Homo sapiens: one gene and its partner. The gene in region 2 interacts genetically with the main gene of each other region. Each region holds a gene or a part of one and is shown on either strand. Other genes may lie near its edges.

The links.
Region 1: of MTHFD1 (region 2) and ATG10, changing one suppresses a phenotype caused by changing the other (phenotypic suppression), as found in Homo sapiens cells (one large-scale study listed by BioGRID).

What each region holds. Positions count from the first base shown.
Region 1 is NC_000005.10:82,163,899-82,167,719, reverse strand, and holds part of ATG10 (ubiquitin-like-conjugating enzyme ATG10), read right to left. Parts: intron 3,322-3,821; coding exon 3,183-3,321; intron 1-3,182. UniProt on the Homo sapiens protein: E2-like enzyme involved in autophagy. Acts as an E2-like enzyme that catalyzes the conjugation of ATG12 to ATG5. ATG12 conjugation to ATG5 is required for autophagy. Likely serves as an ATG5-recognition molecule. Not involved in ATG12 conjugation to ATG3.
Region 2 is NC_000014.9:64,412,181-64,416,001, forward strand, and holds part of MTHFD1 (C-1-tetrahydrofolate synthase, cytoplasmic), read left to right. Parts: intron 1-291; coding exon 292-345; intron 346-3,177; coding exon 3,178-3,314; intron 3,315-3,458; coding exon 3,459-3,559; intron 3,560-3,821. UniProt on the Homo sapiens protein: Trifunctional enzyme that catalyzes the interconversion of three forms of one-carbon-substituted tetrahydrofolate: (6R)-5,10-methylene-5,6,7,8-tetrahydrofolate, 5,10-methenyltetrahydrofolate and (6S)-10-formyltetrahydrofolate.

The DNA of each region.
Region 1 (3,821 bases), on a different chromosome or scaffold from region 2:
GTGTTTATAGAAGTGGAACAGCTGCTTCAGCTAGTTTGGATACCCACTTTTGAGTCCTCAGGATGTTCTATTTTTCTAAGTCCACTACTCCTATAGTCTCTGAAAAGTATCAGACTAAAGAGTAAAGATACATAGATGGTTTGGGTCTTAGGTCTCCTGGAGACAACAGAATTACTTCCTCTTTCAAAACCTGGCATAGCAGTTGAAGTAGGCACCATCACAATGTTTCCATTCTTGGGCTGTATTTTTTAAATGACTAGAAATTCTTCTTTATCGTTTCACTTAACAAATACTTGATGCTGTGCCACAGCTGAATAAGCCATATATATACATACATATATCTTATACATGTATACACACAAAGCCATAAATAAAGCTTCTCACTTTGTAGGCACTCAGTATCAATTTCCTTCACTCTTGTTTTTATCTTGAAGCTCTATGTTCCAGCATATCATTTTATAGATATAAACAAATATTTCTGCTATAGTACAAATTGTGATATAATAGAATATATGATATGATATGACATGACATGACATGGGAGCGACAAGAATAGATGGCATGTTAACTGAGTCTTGGGCTACTAGTAATTGGCCTGGTGGAAACTGGACCATATAAAGAAAAGGAATTCAAAGTCTAAGGGATTTGCATTTCGAGAACCAGAGTAAAGATTTCTTCTGAAATCTAAACAAGTTGATACAAGAAAGGGTAATGTAAATTTAAATGGAAACTATTTATTACTTGTTTTGCTTTTCCTTAAAAAAATAGGTACAGGGAGAAAATTTAGAGCAAAGCAGAGAAATTAATTTGTACTAACAATCAAATGCAAAAGAAATTATAAATATCTGTCAAAAACAAGGCTAAGTGAACTATTTTTGAAGCAACAACAACAAAAAAAGACCCCTGGGCAAGAAATTTTACAGTCATCCTCTTTCTAGGTCGGAACTCTCTTAGAATGAGACAAAGAAAAATCCGGGCCTGGAATAAGAGGAAGACATTAGGAATCCTTTCACCACACTGACAGAGATTTGTTTAACAAACAGATGAAGGGCCAGAGTAATCAGATATCACAGGAAAAAGTAAGGAGAATAAAAAAGACTGGGGGGGGAATAAATGAAAAATTGTGACTCCAGAGTAAAGGTTGATACATTTTAAAAATATCCATGAGGTTAAGTTAGGTGGAAAGAAAAAATAAATTATTAGAATATGATAAAGGAAAGAAAGAACCATTCTTCATGTTTCTCCACCAGAAAACATTCAGTATGCTGCACAAAAATTAAATTTGATATTTTAATGTACCTGAACAAGCACTAAATGAATTCTGGGCCAAAATAAAATTTTAAATTCCTAATACCCACTCTACACAACACAAAGCAGTGGTGGTGGGGGGCGAATGCTTCTACATAAAAACAAATGACTTGTTTTGGTTTACCTTTATAAGGCATAAATGGAGGGCATTGTAAAAGTATACAAATAGAAGCCAAGAATGTTAATTGTGTTTTTTTAAAAGAATAGAAAATCGTGAAGAAAGGATCACAGAAACTACACCAATGTCATTAAAATATAATTGGACTTGCAGGAACAATTACTGTGCTGTACTGTAAGGGGAGCTGTTGGCACATAAGAGCAAAGCACACATATGAGCTCATCAGCAGGCCTTGGCAAGACCCACTTCCAGCTAGAAGCAGTCATGTTTCAACACCTCTGATTCCCTAATGCTGACAAGCTAAACAACTTGTTTTGTCTCTGGGAGCTCTTCTCTGGTGATTAACTGCTTATGGTGAATACTAATTATATGAAAGTACAGTATTGAAGAAGTAATGTCTTATTTCCTCTACCTGCAGCCTCGACTTGTCTCTGAATCTAGAAGGCAGAGCCATTGCAAACCAGAACCAAGAAAGACATTTTCCTCCCCCTGAATAAACAAATATATCTCCTACTTTTTAGTATAGCACAGCTCACTGACAAGAAACTTCCTTTAACCTCTGGGCTCCAAACCAAATATAATTACCATAAAATGAGTGTTTTAAAGGCTTGTAATAATTATATGGATAAATCCACAGCAAGAGTTTGTGAATTAGTGAACTATCAGTGTCCTCCATTCCCCATGTCCCATGTTGAAAATTTACCCCAAATTGTCAGTTCTTAGGAACTGCACCTCAGATTAAAATCTTCTCACCAGGGAGTCTATGAGAATTTCTTCTTGTGTTTTAAATCCTAAGTGCTTGTTAAACTGCCAACACTGCAAAATTAGAGACCATTAAACAATATAACAGCAAGTGATTAAATCTACCAAACATACATTCAAGCAGCTTAAGCTACTTTTGAATTAAAAATAAAATATCATTGGCTAAATTCAGATGTCTTAGCTATCCAGAAAAAAGTCAGAAGGCTGTTCAAAATGCACAATGCTGCTGATAAGGCCAGATACAAAAGGAGAAATAGGGCAAGGGGTTGGCTGAACAGGAGGCTCATCTTGGTCCCTGGGCCTGGGTGGCAGCACATCCCAATGCTGACCCGGTTTAGGCAGTGGACTCTAAGCGGGAAGCCATGGCTGTGCTGCAGAGTGAGGACGCCATGTGGCTGCTGATTAAATAAGCTTTATTAGCTAAGGCCTCCAAGGAGACAGGGTATTCCACCTTCTTGGCAGGGGAATGAGTTGAGTAACAGCATCACAGGAAGCTAAGGCATTGGAGATGTATAGATGGCTGAAGGAAATGTTAGTGCTATTTTTAAATACAGCTTAAGCTAATTGATAAACATTTCTTAAAATAATTATTAGCTTTTGGGGAAGGAGGCACAGGAGCTTCTGAGTTAATTGGATCATCTGAGATTAAAATAAATTTTTACTGTAAAGTTAGAAGTAAATAAACATTGTAGCTTTAAGTTGTTCCTACTTGTTTAAAGTAAAGAAAAGAAAAAGGGCCAGGGGGCTTAGTCAACTTCAGGCAAAAGGCCAAGAATCTGAAGATCAGACTTAAGGCTGAGATGATATCATTCACGCTGAAGTCTTGATACCCTTTCTGAAGCATGAGAAAATTTAGTGGTAAAACCTTACCTCACCCACAGTTTTCTCATTTTTAACTCTATTTTTTTTCCTCTGGAGAATAATTTTCCAAATATGCTTTTTGCTTTATATGTAAATGTTATAAATTTACTTTTAGCTTCAGACATGTTCTTACCTAAAAAGCTTGCCCTAAAGTAAAGTACAGGCACTTGGTAGCTACAGGAATATAAGACATGATACTCATATTTAATCACTTCGGACGCTGCTGCAGTTTCAATCACTTCACAATCATCCAAGGGTAGCTCGAAAGCCTCCTAAAAAAAAGCAAAAACAAAACGAAAACGGGTTTCTTAATAAGAAAAGTACTAACATGGAGAGGAAAAGAGGAGATTTTCTTCTCACAAAATAACAGTTAAATAAATATAAGGCTATGAGGCAAGGAAAAGGGAGTTTCCCATATTAATGTTTAACATTTGAGTCCTGGGTAAATAGTAAAACCAGAAAACATTAGCATTAAGTAATTCCAGATTGTTTTTGAGACACAAAGAGGCTCTGGATAAAGAAAAAGGAAAAAAAAATCTGAAAAGATCTATTGCCTGAAAAATCTTTACTGTACAATTTTAGCAACAAGATGATGGCTATATAAGCTACCTTCTTCCCTACCTGTGAAAGCTAAAAACATCCTAACAATTGAACAAGAGGCTGTGAAATGTCCCTAAAGATTCTATTGTACTTGCCAAAAGATGATTCATTGTGTGCTGAACAATTCCCAGTTCCATTTTGAATAAGAAAGTTATTTTGCAAGAGGTTGAAT
Region 2 (3,821 bases):
ATTTGCATGACCCAGTTCCCAGCTTGGCTTTTCCCTTTGACTTAATGAATTTGGGGTCCCAAGATTTAATTTCCTTTCTCAAGAAATAGCAAGCATGACATTGCTGAAGTGCAGTGGTGGCAATTAACAAGTGAATGATGAATGGGTTGAAGTGAGGGACTCATTCTTCAGAACATATAAGGGTGAAATGATGACCAACACCTCCTTGCTTGTTAGTCATGTCTGTAAAAGAAATGGTTCAATATCTCAAGTTGTCTTGCCATTTACCTGCTTTTAATGTCTGTTTTGCAGATTGGGATCAAAGCCACTCACATTAAGTTACCAAGAACAACCACAGAATCTGAGGTGAGCTTTTATGAGTTGATTGTGAAGAGGGAAGGTGAAGTGGTTTCCTCTCTGGTTTTGGTTTACGGGGGCTTTGGGGACTGACACATTTAGCCAAGACCTCCAGGTATTTTTTTTTTTTTTTTTTTTGAGACACAGTTTTGCTCATGTCACCCAGGCTGGAGAGCAATGATGCGATCTCGACTCTCTGCAACCTCCGCCTCCCAGGTTCAAGCAATTCTCCTGCCTCAGCCTCCCGAGTAGCTGGGATTACAGGCGCCCACCGCCTCACCTGGCTAATTTTTATATTTTTAATAGAGACGCGGTTTCACCACGTTGGCCAGGCTGGTCTTGAACTCCTGACCTGAGGTGATTTACCCGCCTTGGCCTCCCAAAGTGCTGGGATTACAGGCGTGAGCCACCACGCCTGGCACCTCCAGGTATTCTTTCTTCACAGACTCCCACAGAGGAGATGGTGCAGGGATGAACATTTGGTACTCAAAGTGTGACTGCAGTACTGTTTGCTTCCAAATCATCTGTTGTGTTTGTTAAAACTGATCCTTGGAGCCAGGCACGGTGGCTCATGCCTGTAATCCCAGCATTTTGGGAGGCCGAGGTGGGCAGATCACCTGAGGTCGGGAGTTCGAGACCAGCCTGGCCAACATGGAGAAACCCTGTCTCTACTAAAAAATACAAAATTTGCCAGGCGTGGTGGCGCATGCCTGTAATCCCAGCTACTTGGAAGGTTGAGGCAGGAGAATCACTTGAACCCGGGAGGCGGAGGTTGCAGTGAGCCAAGATCGTACCATTGCACTCCAACCTGGGAAAAAAGAGCAAAACTCCGTCTCAAAAAAATAGGTAAAACCGATCCTTGGCCTGTAATTATCTGCATTCTAAAAACCAAATATGTATTCCTTTTATATGAGGTTCAGGACTAGGCAGAACAAATCAGCGGTGATTAAAGTCAGAACTGTGGTTGCCTGTAGGTGGGAGATTAATGCTAAACTGTAGGAGGATAAAGCAACTTTCTTGAGGTTATGGCAATGTTCCATATATGCGCTGTCCAGTATGGGAGCCACTAGCCCCATGAGGCTATTTGAATTTAGTTAAAATGAAATAAAATTAAAAATTCACTTCCTTGGTTGTACTAGCCACTTTGCAAGGATTAAGTAGCTGCTATTGTATTGTAAGGTGCAAATTATAGAAAATTTCTGCCATCGCAGAAAAGATGATTGGACATTGCTGCTCTACATCTTGATTTGGATGATTGTAACATGGGTATTATTGCTGTAATAAGTTATTAGAGTTCTTAGCTCTTTTTATTTTATTGTATTGTATTTTTAGAGACAGGGTCTCACTCTTTTGCCTCAGCTGCAGCACAGTGGTGTGATCATAGCTCATTGTAGCCTCAACCTCCTAAGCTCAAGTGATCCTCCCACCTTAGCCTCTTGAGCAGCTGGGACTATAGGCATGAGCCACCATGCCCAGCTAATTTTATTTTATTTTTGAGGCAGAGTTTTACTCTTGTCGCCCAGGCTAGAGTGCAGTGGTGCAATATTGGCTCACTGCAACCTCCACCTCCCAGGTTCAAGCGATTCTCATGCCTCAGCCTCCTGAGTAGCTGTGACTACAGGCATGCGCCACCACGCCCAGCTAATTTTTGTATTTTTAATTGCCCATATTGCCCAGGCTGGTCTCAAACTACTGACCTCAAGTGATCTGCCCACTCAAGCCTCCCAAAGTGCTGGGATTACAGGCGTGAGCCACCGCACCTGTCCCCGCTTTTTTTTTTTTTTTTTTTTTTTTGAGACAGAGTCTTGCTCTGTTGCCCAGGCTGGATGCAGTGGCATGATCTCAGCTCACTGCAGCCTCCGCTTCCTGGGTTCAAGCGATTCTCATGCCTCAGCCTCCTGAGAGGCTGAGATTACAGGCATGCGCCACTATGCCCGGCTTATTTTTTATATTTTTGTAGAGACAGGGTTTCACCATGTTGGCCAGGCTGGTTTCAAACTCCTGGCTTCAAGTGATCCAGTAGCTGCTATTGTATTGTAAGGTGCAAATTATAGAAAATAATTTTCTATATTTTGGGAGGCCTGCCTTGGCTTCCCAAAGTGCTGGGATGACAGGTGTGAGCCACCACACCCAGCCCTAATTTTTTTTTTTTTTTTTTGAGGTGGAGTTTCACTATTGTTGCCCAGGCTGGAGTGCAATGGCACAATCTCAACTCACTGCTGGAGTGCAGTGGCACTATCTCAGCGGACTGCAACCTCCACCTCCCAGGTTCAAGCAATTCTCCTGCCTCAGCCTCCCGAGTAGCTAGGATTACAGGCATGTGCCACCACACCTGGCTAATTTTGTATTTTTAGTAGAGACAGGGTTTCACTATGTTGGCCCAGCTGGTCTCAAACTCCCAACCTCAGGTGATCCACCCACCTCAGCCTCCCAAAGTGCTGGAATTACAGTCGTGAACCACCGCACCCAGCCCCTGGCCCTAATTTTTAAAAAGTTTTTGTAGATATCACATTTCACTGTGTTGTCCAGGCTGGTCTTGAACTCCTGGGTTCAAGTAATCCTCCTGACTTGGCCTCCCAAAGTGCTGGGATTACAGGCATGAGACACCTCGCCCAGCCTCTTAGCTCTTTTATTTGATGGACTTCTTACCAGACACCTAGGGGATGCATTCTATGTTAAAGTACAGGTGCTCTCAGGATTCAAGGGGAAGGTACATTCTGAAAGGACTATAATTAAAGTGTTGGGGGGAAATAGGGCAACCTAATTTTTGCCTTAGAAAGTGTTTCTTCCTACCTTTTGATTTCTGTGTGATATACAAATTATATATGGTATTACTTTTAGGTGATGAAGTACATTACATCTTTGAATGAAGACTCTACTGTACATGGGTTCTTAGTGCAGCTACCTTTAGATTCAGAGAATTCCATTAACACTGAAGAAGTGATCAATGCTATTGCACCCGAGAAGGATGTGGATGGGTAAGTGTGGCTTGGCTTCCTATGTCTCATTGCATGCTTTCATTTATAATATGTTTCTATTTGGGGAATACAGCATAAATGTTTCTAAAGAGTAAAGACATCTAATTGCCTTTATTTCCTTCTTATTTCCATCACTTTTTTAAGATTGACTAGCATCAATGCTGGGAAACTTGCTAGAGGTGACCTCAATGACTGTTTCATTCCTTGTACGCCTAAGGGATGCTTGGAACTCATCAAAGAGACAGGTAAAAACAACAAACCAAACAACAAGAAAGCACCATTTCCTGAATCCTGGTCTTGACATGTGGTGGCATAGAGGAGGTACATTGTGGGCCATAAATAAATGGACTTGATTGGCAGAAGGGCCTGTCTACTAAGGATGTTACCTAAATTTTCTCTCAATTTTCTCAGCAACTCTGTGAAGTAGGTACTGTTATTGTTCAACTGCTAAGAAAATAGGCTCAGGCCAGGCACAGCGGCTCATGCCTGTTATCCCAGCACTTTGGG